Linked DNA regions of Homo sapiens. The main gene of each other region encodes a partner of the protein of the gene in region 4 in a complex. Each region holds a gene or a part of one and is shown on either strand. Other genes may lie near its edges. The genes, in order: THOC2, THOC1, SARNP and CHTOP.

Region 1 (7,040 bases), on a different chromosome or scaffold from region 4:
TTGACATTTAAGAGACCTAGTTGGCTAGTAAAACCTTGGATTAGTCAACCTGTCAGGGCCTTGGCATCTTTTTTTGTAATATGGTCATGTGGTTATACTTGTAGATAGTCTCTAAAGTCCTTTTAAGTTATAAAATTTGGATTCTTAATTGTTAAAATATTCCTAAAATGACTTCTTAATCACTTTGGAAAATATGTTGATTTTGTCTTATTTTTTAAATTTAGTGTCATGATACCCTGGTGCAGTTTGGTGGGTTTTTAGCATCTAATCTGAGCACAGAAGATTATATAAAGCGAGTGCCTTCAATTGATGTACTCTGTAATGAATTTCATACACCCCATGATGCAGCATTTTTCCTGTCTAGGCCAATGTATGCCCATCATATTTCGGTAAGTACAAGTGTCTTTGCTGCCGCTCAAGAACGATCCAAATTATTTCTTAACGGTTTTATCTGTAAGTACATATCACTACAGATTTTGGGGGAAGGTCTTGGCCCTAAACTAGGATCCCTTCTTTGTTTCCAATAGGGGTACGAAGCTGTGTGGTAGAGGTATACAAAAAAGGTGATGAGAAATTTGGAGTCTAATTGATCATTTAATCAAACATCTGCTGTTAGTGTTTACATATCAACTGCTACAGTCTCCCACTTCTTTCCTAACTAACTGCTACTTGATTTAATTATCACTTTGTTAGCACTATGCAGAAATTCCTGTGTTATGTATACACTCTGAAGGGAAAAAGACAATAAGGGAGTGGTGTTAGGCTGCTTCTTCCCCTTTAGATCCTCTCAATCCAGAGAATTGTTTGCCGTCTTTGTGTAACGTCTTACTGTTGTCACACCCCATGGTAGATCAGTCTCAGCTGTGCAAGAGGGTACCTGATTTCTTGACAGACAGAGGTGGGAGAATTTCTTCATCTTAGGAATTCTGACCTGCCCTGTGCTAAGTGAACACACTAATCAGCAATATGGAATCCTAGCAAACAGGAACACCTGGTTGTCTGTGGTTGGCTGAACTTTTCCAGCTCAGAAAATGGAGCAGGTCATTCAAGCTACTTTTTCTCTCTTACTTGTGTAAAATATTACCTTTGTCTTTTAAGAGATACAAAAACCTAAACAAAGAAATGGCATTTCCCTCTCAGGCTTGGAAGAAAACAGAAAACTAAATGAAAGTGGCTGTATAGCCAAGTCAGATATAAGTCTTTTATCTGTAGGCAGCATGCCACTCTCTGGAAAAGGTGTTTCCCAGCAATCTTGTGGTTGTGCTGGATGGGCATCCAAGCTGTCCTGGGGATCCTTGCTTTTGCTTCTTGAGTGAAAGCCTCTGTTGAAGAGCCTTCGTTGAGAGAGTGAAAATGTATATTAGGTGATTGCTATGTCCCCTCTATAAACTATCAGCAGGCTCTCTTGAGGATAATTCAGCCAAACGCTGCCCAGATTTTTTTTTTTTTTTTTTTTTTTTTTTTGAGATGGAGTCTCGCTCTGTCTTCCAGGCTGGAGTGCAGTGGCGCAATCTCAGCTCACTGCAACTTCCACCTCCCGGGTTCAAGCGATACTCCTATCCCAGGCTCCCAAGTAGCTGGGATTACAGGTGCCCGCCACCACACCCAGCTAATTTTTGTATTTTTAGAAGAGATGAGATTTCACCATGTTGGCCAGGCTGGTCTCAAACTCCTGACCTCAGGTGATCCGCCTGCCTTGGCCTCCCAAAGTGCTGGCATTATAGGCATGAGCCACTGTGCCTGGCCTGCTCAGATTCTTGAGACGAGATTTTTGAACAATAGTGAGAAGTACAGCAATAATTGTGGATATCAGTTCTATTCCATAAGTCTAGTTCCCCAGGCAATTTGAAATGTAGAACTGTTATGTCTCTTCATTTGACTGAAGGTGTGAACTTGAAGTGGGAGTTAAACTGACTTTAGACAAGGACATATTCATCTTGGGTAAATACGAAGTATAGCCTTCTTTTCTGACCAAGCCTATTTTTCTAACTAGATAGTGACTATGGGGTTCCTAGCAATAGAAATCACAGATTCAGACCCAGAGGACTGGGGAGATTGGAGCTATCATGTAACCCTCTCATACCTATAAACTAATTTTTAGTTTTAATTGTTGAGGTTGTGGTCCACCTTGAGACACAGGTCTGAAAGATAGGCTTTTAACCTAGTTCATATTCTAGATCTTGCCCAGAACAGGTAATTAGGCTGTCTTTTATGCAGATAATGTCAGCCCTATTTTATCCCGTTTTGTTAGAACCTTAGCAGAAGTCATTCTGCTCATCTAGATTCATATTAGTTACCTTCAATAAGACCTGTCCTCTAAATTAAAAAACACTCTCTGTTTTCCCAACTGCTATTCCCTCAGGTTTCTGATGCAATTGGGACTCCTTTTTCGTAACTAATGTTCTTTGTAGCTTTGTCACTTACGTGGTCTCAGTGGTTGTCAGCATGCTCTCTAAAATGGGGATAACAGAGCATAAATCTTCCCACTTCTAGAACAATTGTAAAATTCTAGAACAATTGTAAAATTGAGCACTCAGGAAGGAAGGCAGGTAACTGAGCTGTAAGGAGCTGAGACTCTTTTGCCTATCACAGTGTAGAACTGGAAGCAGAACCTTTGATCATCTCGTTTTGGGTTACGTGTTTAGCACAAATAGAATGATTTAAGTGATTTTCTAACGTAAGGAAGTAACTAGTTTTAGGACTTCCTTTAGGTTCGTATGAAGGGTGATACCTAACTTAAACAAAATTTTCTGGATGAGAGCTCTTTCATCCTAAAGAGACTGAAGGATGTGAAACAATAGCAGCAACTCTGTGTTATCTTCATATATATGTGTGTGTGTGTGTGTGTGTGTGTGTGTGTGTGTGTGTGTTCATGTATAATATATATGTTCATATATATGTTATCTTCATATATATAGAATATATAGAAAAAATATATATATTTTTGTGTGTGTATATATATGTATAATATATTTGGCATACACATCTCTGCAGCCCCTCCCATTGTACTAACAATTTTTTTTCCTCATACAATTAAGAATATGGCATTCCTCTGTTTTTTCCCCCAAATTAGGATAAACCAGTCAAACGAAAGAAGCTGCAGCATCAGTTCTCACATGCTTTAAACTTCAATATACCACAGCTTTTCACAGAAAAATTTATTTGGCTTAGCAGTAGAGTAACCAGTTGGTCCTGGTTTGCCTGGGATGTTCCCAGTTTTAGCACTGAAGTCTTAAATCCTCAGAAATCCCTGAATCCCCAGCAAACCCTGACAATTGGTCACCCTACTTAGCAGTCTTAAAACAAATTTCTCATAACTTTTCTTAGTGTTGATCCAGCTTTTTTTTTTTTTTTAATTTTTATTTTTTGAGACAGTCTCCTTCTGTCATCCAGTCTGGAGTGAAGGGGCATGATCTCAGCTCACTGCAACTTCTGCCTCTGGGGTTCAAGTGATCCTCTCACCTCAGCCTCCCAAGTAGCTGGGATTACAGGCCTGCGCCACCACGCCTGGCTAATTTTTTGTAGAGATGGGGTTTTGACATGCTGGCCAGGCTGGTCTCAAACTCCTGATCTCAAGTGATCTGCCCGCCTTGGTCTCTTGATCCAGCTTTTTAATTGACAAATTTTAACAGTTGGTAGGGTCTGCATGTAGTGATACTACATTCTGTCCTAGTTGGCTATTACTAGTTCCATTCTTCCTCTTTTCTCATGTTAAGACCTTCTATTTGTTCCCTTGAATATCTCAAAAGCAGGACTGGAAACCCTACATGTTCAATCCCTGATACAGCAGCAAGAGGGAGTAGGGTGGGGGAATGAAAGAGGAGAACATGCATATACCCTGTTCACTTTACTCAACAGGTCAGATTAGATAAGAACCCTCTGAGAATCTCCTAGTTGGCACACAGTACTAAAGACTGGAATAGCTTCCAGAGATGATTTATCTTAAAATAAACGTTGTTCATAAGAAACTAGAATTTCTACAACAGTTTTGAGATTGGTCATCTTTTGATTCTTTAGAAGGGAATATAGATTTTTATGCCATGAAAGTCAAAGCTATAAATTATGTTGTGTGTGTATGTATGTATGTATTTTTACTTTTTATCTACAGTCAAAGTATGATGAACTTAAAAAATCAGAAAAGGGAAGTAAACAGCAACATAAAGTTCATAAGTACATTACATCATGTGAGATGGTGATGGCGCCTGTCCATGAAGCAGTGGTCTCCTTACATGTTTCCAAAGTCTGGGATGACATCAGCCCTCAATTCTATGCTACATTCTGGTCATTGACAATGTATGACCTTGCAGTTCCACACACCAGCTATGAACGAGAAGTCAATAAACTTAAAGTCCAGATGAAAGCAATTGATGACAATCAGGAAATGGTAGGTTTTTGTTCTAGTAGTTCAAGTGCAATAACTTTATGGTATTCAATGTTACCTATATTTTGAAATTGTTTTAGCTCTGGTTCCTTAAAACAGTGATCTTGTTGCTATATAATATTTTCTTAAATGGGGTTTAATAGTTACTTCTGAGTGGGGGGCCAGGAGTTTGGTGACTAGGTGGAGGTTATGATTAATCAAAAATTATTTGAGTGTCCTTTTCTACTGACGACTATGCTAGTAACTTAAAGTGATTCATGTGACTCTAATAGCAAGAGCAGTAGTTCTCAAGAGGAGAGTTCTTTAGGAGAAGACTATTGAGAAGCCGAGTCTTGAAATGGACAGGCCTTGAAGGTAGATTAGGTTTGGAAATATGGAAGCAGATAGGGAGGTCACCATAGGGTTCCAGCAAAGACAGGAAGTAGATTGAGGTTTAGGGAGACCACTTTTACTGATTCACTTTCATGTAGTGAATGTACTTAGTGATTCATATGAATAGTTATGATGGGGCCAGATTATGTAGGCATTGGAAGTCAGGGAGAAAAGTAGACTTGGTAAAATTGAGAGCTATTTTAGATTCCTGAGCAGGATAGTAATGTAAAAAATGGTACTTAAAAAAGATTACTCATGACAGCAGTATGAAAGATGCTTTTTGACTAGCATTAGGCTAAAGACCAGCTAGGTGGCTTTTTGGGCAGTCTATTGTGAGAGCATAGACTGATGGAGGTAGTGGCAGTGTACAAGGCTTGTAAACCAGTCTTGATATAAAGGAGAGGGAAGAGTCAAAGATGACACCATGCCTGAGACTAATAGTGTCAGTGTTGCAAATGTAGCCTGTTCTGATGGTGTATGAAGATGCCATGACAGTGTTATGAGTGTGTTGAATGGAGATAAAAGTAGCACGTTCAAGTGGACCTATATTCATGTTAAAGTAGTTATAAACTATCAGCCTTTATCTCTTTAAACTTTTCAATTAAAAGAAGAAAGGTAATGTGCATATAGTTAGAAAAGTGTCTAATTGAATTCTTTGTAGCCCCCAAATAAAAAGAAAAAAGAGAAGGAGCGCTGTACTGCCCTTCAGGACAAGCTTCTTGAAGAAGAAAAGAAACAGATGGAACATGTACAGAGAGTTCTACAGAGATTGAAACTGGAAAAGGACAACTGGCTTTTAGCAAGTAAGTTGTTGGAATTGTTAGGTTCCTGATGCTGGTAAATTACAGAAAACAAAACATTATAACTTTAGAGGTGTTAAAGTGTATTATGTTTGTATTTCAACTCAGTGTTCCCTATCCCATTCTTTGGTTATTTGTTAATGCAGAATCAACTTCATGTTCACTGGAGGAACTGATATAGTTTGCTGGTGAAGTTAATTAACTTTTAACTACATATTGGCAGCTTGTCATTCAGCTTTTCTGTATAAAACATATTTCTGGAGAAATCATAGAAAAAAAGGTCCACATAGTAAAAATGATAATCATGACCAGGCATGACATTTGGTTACAAACTATAAATAGTTTGTGGTTTATAGTATTCTCTTCACTAAAGGTAATATGTTGTCATGTTTAGTGGCTTTGAGGCACTTGGGGAAGAAGTTTACCACTTAATATATTCTTCCTTTATTTTTAGAATCTACCAAAAATGAGACCATCACAAAATTTCTACAGCTGTGTATATTTCCTCGATGTATTTTTTCAGCAATTGATGCTGTTTACTGTGCTCGTTTTGTTGAATTGGTACATCAACAGAAAACTCCAAATTTTTCCACACTTCTTTGCTATGATCGAGTAAGTTTTTATTGCAACCTTTAAAAAGTTCTCACACAAAGATAGCTAACATTATAATTTATAGAGGTATTATTGTGTGTTTAGTTAAAAAGCATGAACTCAAGAACCAAGTGTCTGAACTTGAATCCTAGCTCTACTACTTTCTAGCTGTATGATCTTTGGCAAGTTATTTAACCTCTCTGTGCCTGTTTTCTTATCTGTAAAGCATAAGTACCTGCTTCATAAGATTGTTGTGAGGATTAAATGAATCACTACACATAAAAAGTACCTGATATGTAATAGGCACTCAAGGTTAAACTATTAACTAAGTATTTGAGTTTACGTGTTGTATCATAATAGGTAGAACTCTCTTCTCCATTCTTAACCTTCACTTCTCAAAAAAAAAAAAAAAGACAAAAAAGTTTACACCTTCACACACATATAAAAGCAGGGAAGCTTTTCAGTATGGTCATATGCACATTTTGCATTTAGCTTTTTTCTTATTACTACATTTTGTGGTTTAAAAACATAATGTGGCCGGGTGCGGTGGCTCATGCCTGTAATCCCAGTACTTCGGGAGGCCGAGGCGGGTGGATCACAAGGTCAGGAGATCGAGACCATCCTGGCTAACATGGTGAAACCCCGTCTCTACTAAAAAAAAAAATACAAAAAAATTAGCCGGGTGTGGTGGTGGGTGCCTGTAGTCCCAGCTACTCAGGAGGCTGAGGCAGGAGAATGGTGTGAACCTGAGACGCGGAGCTTGCAGTGAGCCTAGATCACACCACGGCCCTCCAGCCTGGGTGACAGAGTAAGACTCAGTCTCAAAACAAAACAAAACAAAACAAAAAACATAATGTATGTTCCAGTATGTCAGCTGCATATTTTTAATTTCTATC
Region 2 (7,040 bases), on a different chromosome or scaffold from region 4:
GAGCAACAAGTTGGTTTTCTTTTGGTGGTTACCCTTTTAATATACATGAAAAGGAATATTCAGTATTCCTTTCCTACTCCTGAAGATTACAAGGACTGCCATAATTTTAAATTACTCACTAAACATCTCTGCTTTCCCCTTCCATATTATTACTGTCATCTAGTTAAGTTCCACGTTAATAAAATTTTTTAATTAAAAAAATTTTAAATCATTCATGACTTTTTTGTGTTTATAGTCAATAGTAAATTTACTGTCATATTTTTCAATTTTTGTGCTCACCGTTGCCTTCTGTATCCCACTCCATTCTTATGGGTTCAATTTCCTTCCTCCTGAAGAACATCCTTGAGTAGTTTTTTTCAAAATGAGGGTCACTGAGTGGTAAGTTATCCTGGTCTTTAAATAAAAATGTCTTTCTTTCATCGACAGTCTTGAGTATATTTAACTCGGTATAAAATTCTAGATTGAATGTCATTTTTCTTTCAGCACTTTAATATTTCTCTACTGTCTTCTGGTATTAATGGTTGATATGTTAGAAATCTGCTAACAGTCAAACTGCTGTGCCTTCCCAGTATATTTGTCTTTCTTATCCCTTAGTGGCTTTTAGGTTTTCTCTGAATGCCCACAGTTATGGCATGATGTAATGAAGAGTAGATTTATCTTTCTTTATCCTGCTTGGCAGTTGTGACACACTTTTAAGCTGAGGATTTGAGATTTCCTTCAATTCTTTGCAATCCAGTTTCTCTACCATTCCCTCCATTTTCTTCTTTGGAAATCCTACTAGACAGATGTTGGAAATTCCCAATCTATTCACCATGGCTTTTAACTGCTCTTCCACTTAAAAAAAAAAAATCTGTCTGTGCTGCTTGCTGGATGAAGTTCTCATCACCTTCTTCAGTTCACTAGTTCTTTGTTCATCTATGTCCAGTGTATAGTTTAATTCTGTGTGCTGAGTTTTGGTTTCAATTATTGTATTTTTCATTCCCAAGACTCCCGATTAGTTGTATCGACTGTCCTACTTCATTTCAGCCTGCTTTTGTTTCATGATTTCTTGTTCCTTTTCAATGGATGTTATCTCATCGATTATCTTTTTGAGTATCCAAAACATACATAAAGTCTTGGTCAGGCTATATATTTCATCTGGAATAAATATATATATATATCCCAATAGTTGATTTTGCTGGTGATCCTTCTTAGCATTAGATTTATGGATTTTGGAATTTTAATTTATCAGAGTTTTGAACAGGAGCCTTTTCTTTTGGGATGTTTGTTTACTTCCTTTCCCCTCCCTCTCTGTGTACATCCTTCCCTGTCTAGCAGTTTTGCATCTGCTTCTACCAGGGCCCCTGAGTCCAAAAGTCTAGAAGAAGTCTTATGATGACTTCTTGGAGCAGCTGTTTCATAAGTATACTGAGCATATCACATATCTGGTCACTGAGCAAGCAGATGGACACAAAGCTGTCTTTGTTATCCCTAGGCTCACAACTTCCTATAAAACCATAGCCCTTGGCAGAAGACTGGCAATATTTTTTCTTAGTTTCTTCCCAAAACTGGATAAAAGTTCCACCCTAGTCCTTGGCTTCAAGAAGTGAATCTGGCTCTGGCCCCTTGTCCCACATGGTGCACATTTAGTCTCTGTTACTTGTAGCCAAATTCCTGGACACCACCACCTGCCTTGGATAGAGAGTCCAGCAGGCCCAGGCTGCAGTTTTGCTCACTACTTGGCATTTCTGGTCCATGAAGATATTTATCTTGTTTCTGGAAGCCCAGCCTTGTCTCTTTTGTTTTCTCGTTTATATTTTACCCGTCATTGCTATGTGTTTGGAGCAAAGGGAGTGAGTCGAAACATAAACTCAATGTGCCATCTTGACTAGAAACTTTACATAATCTTGTAGCATTATATTTGAATAAAATTTACTTTTTAAAATGTATAAATAAGATTAACAAGGAACTTTTAAACCCCTTACTTGCACCTAAATAATAATTATGAAATATTTTCATATACAAATTAAATCCTAACTTGACATTTAAAATATATAGACATGAAAGTAATTAAACTGCATTTATTCCAAAATTAGTTTACAAAACAGACTTAATGTAGAACTACTTTCACCTTTGAAACCAAATTAGTCCTACTTCTGAAAGGAAGAAATGGGACTTTCAAACTAACATTAATCAATCAGCTTTAACCCAAAGTAAAATAAGAAACATTTCTATTCAGTTTAACTTAGAAAGGCTGTCAGCTAAACGGAAATAAAACAAGACCATTTCTTATTATGCTTAATGAAAAAGAAAAACTTATACCTTTTCACTTGTTAAAAATTTTGCAAAATATACATGTTCTCCTCCTGTTTTCAATTCTTCCATCTTTTTTCTTGAGGCCTGAGTATCATCTAATTTATAACTCTTAAAAACAGCTAAAACTTCTTCAGAATACTGCAAAATAAAAATATTAGTTTTATTCGACATTGTTACCCAAATTTGTTTAGTGCTTTTCTGCATCAAAATGCCTAGAATTTACTCCCAGTCAATCATGTATGTAGACTGTATATTGCAAGGCACACTAACAATACAAATTATGATAGCAGAATGGGAGTTAAAACTATTTTGTATGATATTTCACTTGTTGCAAAAGTAGGTACAAGCTCCCTACTCCTAAAGAAATATAATTTCTTGGCCAGTGGTGGTGGCTCACGCCTGTAATCCCAGCACTTCGGGAGGCGGAGGGGGGCGGGTAACTTGAGATCAGGAGTTTGAGACCAGCCTGGCCAACATGGTGAAACCCCGTCTCGACTAAAAATACAAAAATTAGCCAGGTGTGGTGGCGGGCACCTGTAGTCCCAGCTACTCAGGAGACTGAGGCTGAAGAATCCCTTGAACCTGGGAGGCTCCGTCTCAAAAAAAAAAAAAAAAAAAACGAAGAAATATGATTTAAGAAGTCTGTGTAAGGGACAAATAGATTAGGGAACATTTTTAAGAGTGTACAGAAATTTACCAGTGAAATTGTTTAACCACCTGTGGAAACTCTTACGCATTTCTTGTGCTAAAAACTGAGCAAATAAATTCCACCAAATTCTGTCCAGTTAGAAGACAATTCCAGATTATTTCTCACTAACCACTTAATCTGAATTTGGATGGTGCTGCCCCCACAAAAAATTGCATATAAAACAAAAACTATTAAAAATAACATAACACACACCATGCTATTCTGAGAACTACCTATTTATCTTAGATTTTAATTATGACAAAAAAGGACAACTGATCTTTAAGTAGCCAAGAAAAATATAACAAATTCTTCTAAAACAGGATTGGCAAACTTTTTCTGTAAAGGACCAGAGAGTAAGTATTTCAGGCTTTGTGGCCTTTATAATCTCAGTTGCAACTACTCAGCTGTGCCATTATAGTGCAAAAACAGCCACAGGTAAGTGGATGGTCATGGTACTATTCCAATAAACCTTTGTTTATAAGCAGTAGGTTAGATCTGGCCCAGAGCCATGACTTGAGGACTTCTGTTTCAACAAGATAGCTAAAATAATTTTGTACAAAGATAGAATATATTCTGCAAAATATCAATTTATGTTAACAACACTCATTATATTCAAAAAAAGCAAGGCTGTAATGACGAACTTTTAAATATCCGATTCTTATATACTACTTCACAATATTAGTGGTTTAAATATTAATTTATAATTTCACTTGTTATGAAATTGGTATAAAAATGTAAGAGGCAGAATTACATAGTGAAAAGTATGTTAGACAAGATTAAGTTTTAGCTCTATCACTGTCTATAAAATACTGGGCTTCTGATAGTCTGTCAATGGCAACTTACCTTGAGAAAAGTTTTCCATGAAATCTTCTCATAGCATTGCACAGGGTTCCTGAAGTAATCCTGAAGTGACCAGAATTTTCGATACAGGTTGTAATCAATTGGAATAGAGCTAATAAAATAAACGTTATATTAAATAAATCATTCAAATTCTTTTACAAATATCTAAATATTCTTAACTTAGCTTTGGTCACAAACCGTTTTCAGAAGCTAATGAAAGTTATCAGAAAAGTACACATTCACAAATGCTTATATAAACTTTTACAAATCATTTTAGGGAACTCATAGACCCCAATAGACTCTTTATCTACACTGGTGGAGCCCCTGAATTTTGGAAGGACACATGGTTATTCAGAATTAAAGATTATGTTTCCCAACCAATCTTGCTGCTCGCATGGTCATGTGATTAAATTCTGGCCAATCAGTTGAGAGCGGAAGTCATATGTGCAACTTTTGGGCCATATTTTATCACTGGCCTTTTCCTCTTCCTGCTGGCTAGAATGCAGATGTGAGCGTGAGCCACCTTGCACTACAGGAAAAAGGGCAAACACCAAGATGATGGAAGAAGAAGGTAGAAGAAGCCTGGGTCTAGGCAATCTCACCGAGCAGTGCTCCCTTACCAGCCTTGGACTGCCTGCTTCTAGACTTCGATATGAGGGGGAAAAATCAACTTTTATGTTGTTTAAACCAATGTTAATCTGAATCTATGTTAAAAGTCACAGGTATCATATCCTAACTAAAAATATTATATCCTAAGAAGCACCAGTATGAGAAAAACATATATGGTACATATCAAGTTAGCATCACAAAAATAAGCCCTTTATCTAGTAACTTTATTATGGCACTACTAATTCAACTTCTAATCTTGATATGTCACAAATCTACAGTGTCAATACATATTCTTTTAATTTAAATTTTTTTTTTTAAAGGAGTCTCACTCTGTTGCCCAGACTGGAGGGCAGTGGTGCGATCTCAGCTCACTGCAAGCTCCGCCTCCCGGGTTCAAGCGATTCTCCTGCCTCAGCCTCCTGAGTAGCTGGGACTACAGGCACCCGCCACCATGCCCGGCTAATTTTTTGTATTTTTAGTAGAGACAGCATTTCACCGTGTTATCCAGGATGGTCTCGAGTTCCTGACTTCATGATCTGCCCACCTCAGCCTCCCAAAGTGCTGGGATTACAGGCGTGTACCACTGCACCCGGCCTATTCTTTTAATTTTTAAAACAGCTAATATCTGATAAACGGCTAGTATCTGAAGCACGTGAAAATCAACAGTGAAGAATACTGACTTTTAACTAACAAAAATCTAAATCTAGTTCTTGCCAAAGCTTTCATCATGAATTAGTAGTATCTGAAAGACTCTAATGGGCATGTTTACTTTCGCTCTTCCTAAACTTTTCCCTAGTAACAACTCTGAAAGTAGGAAAACAATGATGTACACATTAACTTCTCTCTATAATTAAAGCAGCTTCACTGATTTACAACAGTAAGATTATACCTCTGGGTTTTCTATGAATTGGGTTTTTAAAAAAAGCCACAGGCTGGGCACGGTGGCTCACACCTGTAATCCCAACACTTTGGGAGGCTGAGGCGGGCGGATCACGAGGTCAGTTCAAGACCAGCCTGACCAACATACTGAAACCCCATCTCTACTAAAAGTACAAAAATTACCCAGGCATTGTGGTGCGTGCTTGTAGTCCCAGCTACTCAGGAGGCTGAGGCAGGAGAATCGCTTGAGCCCAGGAGGCAGAGCTTGCAGTGAGCCGAGATCACAGCACTGCACTCCAGCCTGGGTGACAGAGCGAGACTCCGTCTCAAAAAAGAAAAAAAAAAAAGCCGCAAAAAGAACATTCCCTAAAACGTTAAAGTAAATAGAGAAAAGAAATAGCACTATATAAATTATTTACATTCATGAAAGAACAAGAACCAATATTTGTATAGTTCCATACATTTGATAAAGAATGTTTCTGAAGTGCATGTGCACACACACACTGAGTAACAAAATGTTACTCAGTTACAACATGTAAGATTGAATATAATAAATACCTCTTGAAATGTACCAGGAAAGTTTGTCTCTTAAAAATGGGGCTACCTCTAACAGAGAATGAGACTCATGCAACCATTATATGTCCCTTTTTGTCTCAATTGCTAAGAACTTCACATCTAATTTAACACTTAATACCAATCACAATATTATTCCATGTTGCTAATTACCATCTCCTACCTGTAAAAGACTTTTGATCTCTTCCCTTTTATCTTTAATTGGCTTGGTGGGTATTTGAGGTGTCTTACAGAATAAATTTTGAAGTAGTGTTAATATCTTACTGTTAGGCAGTTTTTACAGTTGAGGCATTAATATATTTTTAAAAATTTAAAGTCCCCTCTCCTAGATGCTGTCCCTTGCTCTTTTCCTTCACAGCTGAATAAAATTCTTCAAAGAGTTGTCTATACTCCATGTCACCACTTCATTACCTTCCTGTTCATTCTTCAACCCACTTGCAATTTGCCTTCCACCTTCAACACTCCACAGAAACTTTTGAATTTTCTGTTTACCCACACAAAGCAAATGTAACCAATTATTGTATTTGCAAATAATAACAAATCAGAGACCCAGTTACTATGTAAAATAGAATGTCTTGTAACTATTTTAACCAAAAAAACTCTGGAAAACTTGATATATTTTTTTAAATGTTCAGCTATTTTACAGGATGTTATACATTGAAATTTCTTAACAAAAATGTTTACTGGTGTATTTGAGCCAAATCTGAAATGGACTTCATATTGTAGGTAGATGGGTAATGAGTTCTGCTTTGTAAATTACAGTGCCTAAGACCATCTGGTGATAACAGCTGTCACAAAGTAATTCCTCACGTATTTTCTCCCTCTATTCAACATTAGTGACTGTGACAGAGGCAGCTGAGTGTTGAGTCTTATTTAAGTGATTTACAAACATAACCAATAGGGATGAATTGTCTATACAGTCTTAGGCAAAATCTAAGCAGACAAAACTGCACTGGCCAGTGTCTTTTGGGCTGTTTACACTTCAGGTGACTCATCATCTTGTAGCCTACTAACTTGCCCCAGAGCCCTTATGTTGCTCAGGCCAGACCTTAAAGCCTACTTTATTCATGTATAATGAATAAATAGGTCTCTAAAAAAAAATAATAACGATAACAAATAATAGCTACTAGACACTGAATAGACAATATTCTAAGTG
Region 3 (7,040 bases), on a different chromosome or scaffold from region 4:
ATAGTAAGTTCTTGCCAGATATGGCTGTTTAAGGCCTTCCACCATGATTGTAAGCTTCCTGAGGCCTCCCCAGAAGCCAAGCAGATGCCAGCACCATGCTTCCCATAAAGCCTGCAGAAATGTAAGCCAATTAAGCCTCTTTTCTTCATAAGTTACCTAGTCTCATGTATTTCTCCTTTACAGCAATGCAAGAACAGCCTAATATACTTTTTTTTTTTTTTTTTTTGAGACAGTCTTGCTCTGTTGCCCAGGCTGGAGTACAGGGGTGCCATCTGGGCTCACTACAACCTCCACCTCAGCCTCTGGAGTAGCTGGGACTACAGGCACATGCCACCACACTCAGCTAATTTATTTTAAACTTTTAGTAGAGATGAGGTCTCACTATGTTGCCCAGGCTAGTCTCCAACTCCTGACCTCAAGTGATCCTCCCACACTGCTCTCCTAAAGTGCTGGGATTCTTTCATTTTGAGAAACTATCTGTAAACAAAGTGACAAGAACAGGAAGTCTCATTTGAGTCCACTGTCCTTTTCCAGAAATGAGTTAGGCACAACCAGTTCTTATTAAATATTTTAAAACTATCCCTTTTTATACAGAATCGTTTCACTCTTTAAATAAAACTTTGAGGTAGGTTTTATTATCTCCACTTCCTAGATGATGAAACCTGAGGCTCAGGAAGTACTGTAACTTATTAATACTAAGTGGCAAAGCCTTTTTCTTTTCTTTTTTTTTTTTTTGAGAGCAAGTCTCACTCTGTAGCCCATGTTGGAGTGGCGTGATCTTGGCTCACCGCAACCTCTGCCTCCCGGTTTCAAGAGATTCTCATGCCTCGGTCTCCAGAGTAGCTGGGATTACAGGCACATGCCACTGCACCTGGCTAATTTTTTTAAATAAGTAAATAAATAAATAAATAAATGTATTTTTAGTAGAGATGGGGTTTCACCATGTTGGCCAGGCTGATCTTGAACTCTCGACCTCAGGTAATCTGCCTGCCTCAGCCTCCCAAAGTGCTAGGATTATAGGCGTAAGCCACCATGCCCGGCCGCCTTTTTCTTTTTTGAGACAGGGTCTCACTCTATTGCCCAGGCTGGAGTACAGTGGCGCCATCCAGGTTCACTGCAGCCTTGACCTCCTGGGCTTAAGTGATCCTCCCATCTCAGCCTCCTGAGTAGCTGGGACTATAGGTGTGTGCCACCACGCCTAGCTAATTTTTGTATTTTTAGTAGAGACAGGGTTTCTCCATGTTGCCCAGGCTGGTCTCAAACTCCTGGGCTCAAGAGATCTGCCTGCCTCAGCCTCCCAAAGTGCTAAGATTACAGGCATGAGCCACCACACCCAGCCCAGAGCCAATTTTAGAATCCAAGCCTACCTGATTCCAAACGTTATACTCTTTGCCACTAGTCTAACAGACTCTAACACTGAATTAAGTATATTGATGGAATTCAGTGTTGCCACTTCACCCAGAAAAAAAGTTATCAAGAAAAAAGCAAAATATTTGGACACTTAAGAAGTAGGTGGGTGGCCAGACATAGTGGCTCATGCCTATAATAATCCCAGCAATTTGGGAGCTGAGTGCAGAGGATCGCTTGAGCCCAGGAGTTTGAGACCAGCCTGAGCAACAGAATGAGACCCCATCTCTACTTAAATAAATAAATAATTAAGAAGTAGGTGGGAAAACAGTGTTTCTCTACTCAGTTTATTCACTCTCACTTCCTGGGCAACAGAGACCCCAACTCGACTTAAATAAGTAAATAAATAAATAAATAAATAGGTGGGGAAACAATATTTCTCCATTCAGTTTATTCACTCTAATTTCCCTTCAAGGTCTATGAAGCGTTCCAGGTATATTTTTACCTCTGTATCCTCTGTGGTTCCAGTTCCAGCTGAACTTGTGACAATCCCAAATCGCTCCTTCCTCTTTTTCAGTTTCTCATCATCTTCAGACTGTTCAAGGACAAAGGAAAGAGTTGAAACAAACTAGCCTCCATTCACCAAGTAAATGGGAATGAAATGATAACTTATTGGTCACAAGGTGCTAACCAACCCTGTGCCAAGAACTAAGGATCACATAAAGAGATAAGATACATAAGAAACTGAATAAGCTAGCATATACTATGTTGTACCTAGAATGACTAAAAACTTAATTTTAGGCAGGGCCTCAATACTCATAAGACAAGTAGGGTAAAGAAACAGTAAGAGGCCGGGCACGGTGACTCACACCTGTAATCCTAGCACTTTGGGAGGCTGAGGCGGGTGGATCAGGCAGTCAGGAGTTCAACACCAGCCTGGCCAAGATGATGAAACCCCATTTCGACTAAAAATACAAAAAAATTAGCTGGGTGTGGTGGCGGGCGCCTGTAATCCCAGCTACTAGGGAGGCTGAGGCAGAGAACTGCTTGAACCTGGGAGGCAGAAGTTGCACTGAGCTGAGATTGCACCACTGCACTCCAGCCTGGGTGACAGAGTGAGACTCTGTCTCAAAAAAAAAAATAATAAATAAAATAAACAGTAAGAAACACCCATAAAACAAATTTCTATGCTCAAGCAATTCTGGCAGTTGAGGGATATGGAAAACTGAGGTTTCACTGAATAACACCCAAAGTTACACCTAGTAACACCTAGTTAGAAGGTACCCAAACTACTTGTTGAACAATGCTTACACGTTACCAAGGAAAGAAAGGGGAAGAGGGCCAGAGTGGTATTTCTGAAAAACTTATTTGCTTGAAACACCCAGCAAAGCCATAGAAGGCTCTGAATAGTTTGAAATGATTCTTAAAACAGGTGAATCAAGGTGACAGCCATGGTCAACTCTCTAAGAGAAATGCTGTGGACATTTTCCAAGCATCTGTGAAACTCATGATGTCTGCCTGGGAATGAGAGAATATTTCAGTTTACCATGAGTTGGAGCTCGCCATTATTCTAGGTGTTTTGTATCATTCATGTCCAACACTGCTCAGTATAAGAGTCTATATATTTTCCTATCAGAACCTAAACCCTACCATTTTATTTAGCCCACTTTAACAGTTATTTTCTCTTTCTCCACCTCCCCCTCACATCTTATCACCAGTCATCAGAAGCTCAGCCTCAGGATTAGAAAACATCTGAAATCAGGTAGGCTCCTCGGGTGTCTTTCCCCCAGGAAGGACTTTCTAAAATTTGGCACATATATAAAAAGATCTCATTCTCTCATAATCTCAAGAGACCCTCTACTCCCTAGAGATGTACCCATCCTCACTAAAGAGCAGGACAGTTTCTTTGACTTTATTTACGTTGTTAACCCAACAGAAGGACAGATAAGCAAGAGTTCAAACAAGGGCACAGTGGCTCACACCTGTAATTCCAGCACTTTGGGAGGCCAAGGCAAGCAGATCACTTGAGGTCAGGAGTTGGAGACCAGCCTGGCCAACATGGTGAAACCCATCTTTACTAAACATACAAAAATTGGCCAAGCATGGCCGCAGGTGCCTGTAATCCCAGCTACTTGGGAGGCTGAGGCAGGAAAATAGCTTGAACCCAGGAGGCGGAGGTTACAGTGAGCTGAGATCATGCCATTGCAGTCCAGCCTGGGTAGACAGAGTGGGACTCCGTCTCCAAAGAGTTCAAACAAACTTTTTTTTTTTTTTTTTTGAGACAGAGTCTTACTTCGTTACCCAGGCTGGAGTGCAGTGGCACAATCTCAGCTCACTGCAACCTGTGCCTCCCAAGTAGCTGGACTACAGGCATGTGCCACCATGCCCGGCCAATTTTGTATTTTTAGTAGAGACGGGGTTTCTCCATGTTGGTCAGGCTGGTCTCGAACTCCCAACCTCAGGTGATCCGCCCACCTTGGCCTCCCAAAGTGCTGGGATTACAGGTGTGAGCCACTGCGCCTGGCCTCAAACAAACTTTTAAAGAATGTCTGTGTGGTGCTTCTGAGCTGGATTTGTTTTTAAATCCCAAGGAAATTATAGTCCTACAGTCTATAGGCAGGCTGTGTCTCTGGGTGTCCCAAAACTACAAGGTCAAAAGCAAAGGTAACAAAAAGACCTACAGAAATATACAGCAATTTTTCAATGCCTCTACTCTCAACCCCAACCAAGGAGTTGTCTTTGTCCCTGTGGCCACAGCAGCCACCTGTACAAATCAAAAGCAGGGCAGCTATCCAGCTTTCTGTGCTCAATTTAACTAGTCCACCTGTCTGAACACAGCAGGCAGGAGTACTGTCTTGGTCTTTAACTCTTTCAGCTTGAGAAAGATGTTCATTTTCTCCCTTTTGCTGCACCTGCTTTCTAGTGAGTAGGAAGAGACCTAAGAAAGAATGATGGTTATGAAGCAATTAAGAATCCTATACAAGTTATCATTTAATCACAGTTTATTACTAGAATAAACTACTGCCTACACAGTTTTTCTGCCTTTCTCATTATGACCACCAGCAAATCCATAGCGGGTACCTCATTAATGTACTCTGAACTATTGTAAAAACATTAAGCCAGGTTCAAAGAAAAACATAAGTATTCTTGTCCTTAATAATAATAAATTAAAATAATAACATTATAGCCATGAACATCTGAGTGCTTAGTATATGCCAGGTACTGTGTGCAGTTCTTTACACATGCAATATCTCATTTACTACTTTTTTTTTTTTTTTTCCCCAGAGACAGAGTCTCGCTCTGTCGCCCAGGCTGGAGTGCAGTGGTGCCATCTTGGCTCAATGCAGTCTCCACCTTCCAGGTTCAAGGGATTCTCCCGCCTCAGCCTCCTGAGTAGCTGGGACTACATGCGCACGCCACCACACCTAATTTTTGTATTTTTAGTAGAGATGGGGTTTCGCCACGTTAGCCAAACTGGTCTCGAACTCCTGACCTCAGGTGATCCGCCCACTTCGCCTTCCAAAGTGTTGGGATTACAGGCGTGAGCCACTGCATCCAGGCTCATTTACTACTTTATTTTAATTTTTGCAGAGAGGGGGATCTCGCTATGTTTCCCAGGCTAGTCTTGAACTCCTGGGCTCAATCAATCCTCTTGCCTCAGCCTCCCAAAGTGCTGGGATTACAGGTGTGAGCCACTGTACCTGGCATCATTTACTTCTTATAATAATCCTATGGAGTAGGCACAGCAATTAAATTCATTTCATAGATAGGAAAATTTAGTCTTGGAGAGATTAAGTGACTCACCCAAAATTTCACAAATAATACGAGGATTGGAATCCAGGACATTTTACTCAGGAATCCACTTTCTTAGCCTTACCACCTCCTCAAGGTATCTCACTTAAGTATTTCTTTGGAAGAACAGTAGGACAATTAAGTGCTTAACTCCCAAGGAGGAAGGATCACTAGAACCCTTAGCTAAAAAAACTTGTAAATTTTAATCACATCACTCAAATAATCAGGTCAAGAATACTAGGACCCCTTCTTCTAACGTACCATATACCTACAATTTATAAGTAACAGTATCTAGGAAAAGGGCTCCAGTTAGTAATCTTGTACTAATGTTTTTCTCAGCTAAATCTGGTTCTAATTTTGCTTAATTGGCTATTCCATTTGTTGAGATGTAATAAAAGAATAAGGGGCTGGGAGCAGTGGCTCACATCTGTAATCCCACCACTTTGAGAAAATCCCAGGAAGGATCTTCTAAAATCCTGAGGTCGGGAGTTCGAGACCAGCCTGACCAACATGGAGAAACCCCGCCTCTACTAAAAATACAAAATTAGCTGGGCGTGGTGGCGCATGCCTGTAATCCCAGCTACTTGGGAGGCTGAGGCAGGAGAAGCGCTTGAACCCGGGAGGTGGAGGTTGCGGTGAGCCGAGATCTCGCCATTGCACTCCAGCCTGGGCAACAAGAGCGAAACTCCATTTCAAAAAAAAAAAAAAAAAGAATAAGGCTGGGCGCAGTGGCTCACACCGGTAATCCCAGCACTTTGGGAGGCCGAGGCAGGCAAATCACAAGGTCAAGATATAGAGACTATCCTGGCCAACATGGTGAAACCCCATCTCTATTAAAAAAAATACAAAAATTAGCTGGGTGTGGTGGCGAGTAGTAGTCCCTACTCGGGAAGCTGAGGCAGGAGAATCACTTGAACCCGAGAGGCGGAGGTTGCAGGGAGCCAAGATCACGCCACTGCACTCCAGCCTGGCAACAGAGCCAGACTCTGTCTCACAAAAAAAAAAAAAAAAAAAAAGGAAGGTTTCCAACAAACATTAAGTCCCACCACATTTTTTACTAACAAAGTCAAGGGGGAAAGTTTCCTTGATCTACTACCACTAAGATAAAGTGAATACGGAATATAAATGGGGATTTCAAGTTGAGAACCTCTAGAATGTTCTAGTTGATATATCTTCACTAAGTCTCCCGGCCAAGTAGGAAACAGTTTTCAGGAAAATAAATGGAGCCTCTCTTCTTGCGGAGAGGCAAGACTAGACCACTATCTTGTTAAACTACCATTATAAACTTTTTTCCATTCAATTTAGCACTAGCAGTACTTCAGCAAGTTCAAATCACAGAGGAGATAAGACTTTTGAAACCCAGACATTATATAAGCACAAACCCTGAGGCCAAGCCCTCCCCCAACGTATGTCCACTTGGAATGTGCGGGCCAGTTTTGCTTCTCCTGGTTCTTTATTTGGCTATATCCTCAAATGGGGAGTCTGATTTCCCCATTAGCCACCTGCCTCGCTGCCCACGTTTTTTAGAGACAGGGCCTCACTCTGTTGCCATGCTGTCGTGCAGTAGCATGATCATGGCTCACTGTAATGTTGAATCCCTGGGCTCAAGTAATCCTCCAACCTTAGCCTCCTCAGTAGCTAAGAACTAAAGGTATGTGCCATGCCTGGCTAATTTTTTTTTTTTTTTAATAGAGACAGGGTCTTGCTATGTTGCCTAGACTGGTTTCAAACTCCCGGACTCAAGCAATCCTTTCACCTCGCCTCCCAAAGTGCTGGGATTACAGGCATGAGCCACCACACCCAGCCTAGCTTCCCTTTTAAACAAGATCTTTGGTGCCTCTTCAGGAGATACAGGCAGAGCATCTGTTCTAAACCCATTAGGGGTTCCAGGGGAAAACAAC
Region 4 (2,781 bases):
CAGAGGAAGTCAAATTCTTCACTTTCTGCTCAAAGCCACAGGCTCTCCAGAATTTTAACACAAGTAAGAAGAAAGAAACTCTCAACCATACAAGGGGTATATCAAGACATCATTAAAGTGGCTGGGTGCAGTGGGTCACGCCTGTAATCCCTGCACTTTGGGAGGCTGAAAGTGGGTCACGCCTGTAATCCCTGCATTTTGGGAGGCTGAAGCGGGTGGATCACCAAGTCAAGAGATCAAGACCATCCTGGCCAACATGGTGAAACCCCATCTCTACTAAAAATACAAAAATTAGCTGGGTGTGGTGGCACATGTCTGTAGTCACAGCCACCCGGGAGGCTGAGGCAGGAGAATCGCTTGAACCAGAGAGTTGGAGGTTGCAGAGCCAAGATCGCGCCACTGCACTCCAGCCTGGTGACAGGAGCGAGACTCGGTCACAAGAAAAAAAAAAAAAAACATCATTAAAGTAGCCATGGCATTTTGAGGCACCTCAAATAAAGAGAGTCCTGGGTGGATTTAAGCGAACAGTTTGTTATAATGAACCAGAAATACAAGATTCCACTGAAACTGAACAGTTGACAGAATATGGTTGAACTTAAACCTTCAAGGGAAACAAGGGCAAAACAAAGCTAATGAGTGGAAAAGTCCAAGATTAGTTTGGGATAAACATGAGGATATAATTGCATTTTAGCATGGCTATCTTCTGACCTCTTCCAGCAGTTCGTCTGCCATCATTCTCCCTTCTGACACACCTACCAAATCAAATGGCTTCTGATCCTCTATATTGCAGTATAAACCAACCCTATAGTACCCCTCTGGTCATGATACAAACCCAGAAGGAAAGTCTGTAAATCTCATACAAAGGTAGAAAGTGCAATTCAACCCAACACGCTGGTTATGGTATATGTGCTGTCAATGTACATGGTAGCAACTTGAATCAAACCAGAGCTGCTACCACATGTAAGCAACCTCTTATGCTGCCCTGTAGTGATGTCAATGTTCTCAGTTTACTAAATTATCAATGTGGAAGAACGCATTTTTGAGCTCCAGACCTTCTAAACATTTTAAACAGGCTATCGAAGAGGATGTAACAGAACCCTATTTCAGAAACCTAAGGATCAGGGAGGAAGGAACACTGACCGGTTTTTCTGGGATGTTTCTGTGGGGGCAACAGGGATGAACAAAAGAAATGTTAGCATGTCAGAGCATATGACAAGTGAGGGGAGACAGAGGTAGGAAGAGGGTGTTCTAGCCACAAGGCTAATGCATTTGTGTTCAAAGAGAAGTCTGGGCAAAGGAGGGGAAACCCCCCCTCCCCCCTAAAAAAACAAAAACAAAAAACCAAATCAAAGGACAAAAGGGTTTCATACAACACAGTATCAAAAAGTAAAAGGAACACACTAAATGCACAAGCTGGTGGCAAGTAAGTCCACAGCCTATTGTGATAGGTCCATCCAGCATCAATCAGATTTCTTCTCATCTGTTATCTCAAGGTTATTTACAGATGTGTTGACTAACAAGAGTCTCTCATGGGAGGATGGGCAGGCTTCAATCATTGGTTTCGGGATCTGTCTGCGCCATGTAGGCATCCAACTCAGCATCCAGGTGTCCTTTTGTTTTCGACATATATGCATCCAATTGGTTGTCCAGCTGCTCCTTGGTCAATACAGGGCGAGCAAGGGCACCTCTCCCTCGTCCACGGCCTCGGCCTCGGCCTCCAAAGCCCCCTCTTCCCCGACCTATCATACCCCGACCTGGCCCAAAGGGGAAAAAAAAAAAAAAAGAGACAGTTACAAGTAAGTTTAATAGGTGCTGTAGTAAATGCCCCTTAGAGCAGTGGGGCCTAGCTGAGAAAAGCTGAAGGGCAGGGCAAAGAGGAGAAATCTGGAAAAAAAGGAAACACAATGGGTAGAAAGCAACACATGGAAAGCACACATAATGAATCCTCTATCACATGATCATCTCTAAATGCTATTTTAACAAATTTTATTCTATCAATAAAGGAAAATAATTAACTGGCAACTATAATTTTAAAAAACCTTAATCAATCCTAAGATAAAATTACCTAACATTTGAGATTCACTAAGTTCATAATTAAAATACATGACAGATAACCCCATTTGGTAAGATAGGGAGGTGGTAACAAGAGCACAGAGCATCAGGGGTGTGAAGACAAGACAGTTTTCAAATTAAGTTTATTGGAGACCCTTCTGGAAAGTCATCTCACCTGTCCTTAAACTTATCAAGTCTAATGAGCTAGCTGACCTCATGTGTCAGGAGACTGAGTTTTTCTGACACAGGAACAATGTAGGGGAGATTTGAAAAAATATTTTGAGTTGTCCTAGCTATTTCTACCTTTAATTCTAGTTACCTTATGACAACTGACAATTGTGGTTATCTGAGAAGCAGTGTGAATTCAGTTAACAAAACAAACTCAGCTTTTTGAAAAGCTATTTTAGTCTCTCCCACCCTCGTGATGTCTCTCAGGATCCAAGTCAAGATAATTTGGAAACATGTTATTTCATCCTGAAACCCAAACTAGCTTGCACTTCACTCAGTAAGTATCATATAATGGGAGAGAAGAAAACAAGCCCTTGGTTATCAACTTTTCTTTCCTAACAGTTATTATTCCTTGGCAACTTCAAGGTCATAAGTTATGGAAGACCCAAGACACCTTTTAAGAGAACCAAAGCAAATATACACAGGGGCTTCAATAGTGTTTTTTTTCTGGACAGGTGTTGGGAGTTTTCCACTAAGCTCTAAACCAGAAGGCTCCCATGA

What was found.
Region 1: CHTOP (region 4) and THOC2 share a complex: the UniProt entries of both Homo sapiens proteins name them as parts of the transcription/export (TREX) complex.
Region 2: CHTOP (region 4) and THOC1 share a complex: the UniProt entries of both Homo sapiens proteins name them as parts of the transcription/export (TREX) complex.
Region 3: CHTOP (region 4) and SARNP share a complex: the UniProt entries of both Homo sapiens proteins name them as parts of the transcription/export (TREX) complex.

What each region holds. Positions count from the first base shown.
Region 1 is NC_000023.11:123,625,037-123,632,076, reverse strand, and holds part of THOC2 (THO complex subunit 2), read left to right. Parts: intron 1-224; coding exon 225-389; intron 390-4,108; coding exon 4,109-4,384; intron 4,385-5,414; coding exon 5,415-5,556; intron 5,557-6,007; coding exon 6,008-6,165; intron 6,166-7,040. UniProt on the Homo sapiens protein: Component of the THO subcomplex of the TREX complex which is thought to couple mRNA transcription, processing and nuclear export, and which specifically associates with spliced mRNA and not with unspliced pre-mRNA.
Region 2 is NC_000018.10:244,023-251,062, forward strand, and holds part of THOC1 (THO complex subunit 1), read right to left. Parts: intron 3,936-7,040; coding exon 3,827-3,935; intron 2,434-3,826; coding exon 2,302-2,433; intron 1,811-2,301; coding exon of another isoform or gene 1,805-1,810; exon of another isoform or gene 280-1,804; intron 1-279. UniProt on the Homo sapiens protein: Component of the THO subcomplex of the TREX complex which is thought to couple mRNA transcription, processing and nuclear export, and which specifically associates with spliced mRNA and not with unspliced pre-mRNA.
Region 3 is NC_000012.12:55,758,699-55,765,738, forward strand, and holds part of SARNP (SAP domain-containing ribonucleoprotein), read right to left. Parts: intron 1,943-7,040; coding exon 1,853-1,942; intron 1-1,852. UniProt on the Homo sapiens protein: Binds both single-stranded and double-stranded DNA with higher affinity for the single-stranded form. Specifically binds to scaffold/matrix attachment region DNA. Also binds single-stranded RNA. Enhances RNA unwinding activity of DDX39A.
Region 4 is NC_000001.11:153,644,037-153,646,817, reverse strand, and holds the end of CHTOP (chromatin target of PRMT1 protein), read right to left. Parts: intron 1,755-2,781; coding exon 1,549-1,754; 3' UTR 512-1,548; downstream 1-511. UniProt on the Homo sapiens protein: Plays an important role in the ligand-dependent activation of estrogen receptor target genes. May play a role in the silencing of fetal globin genes.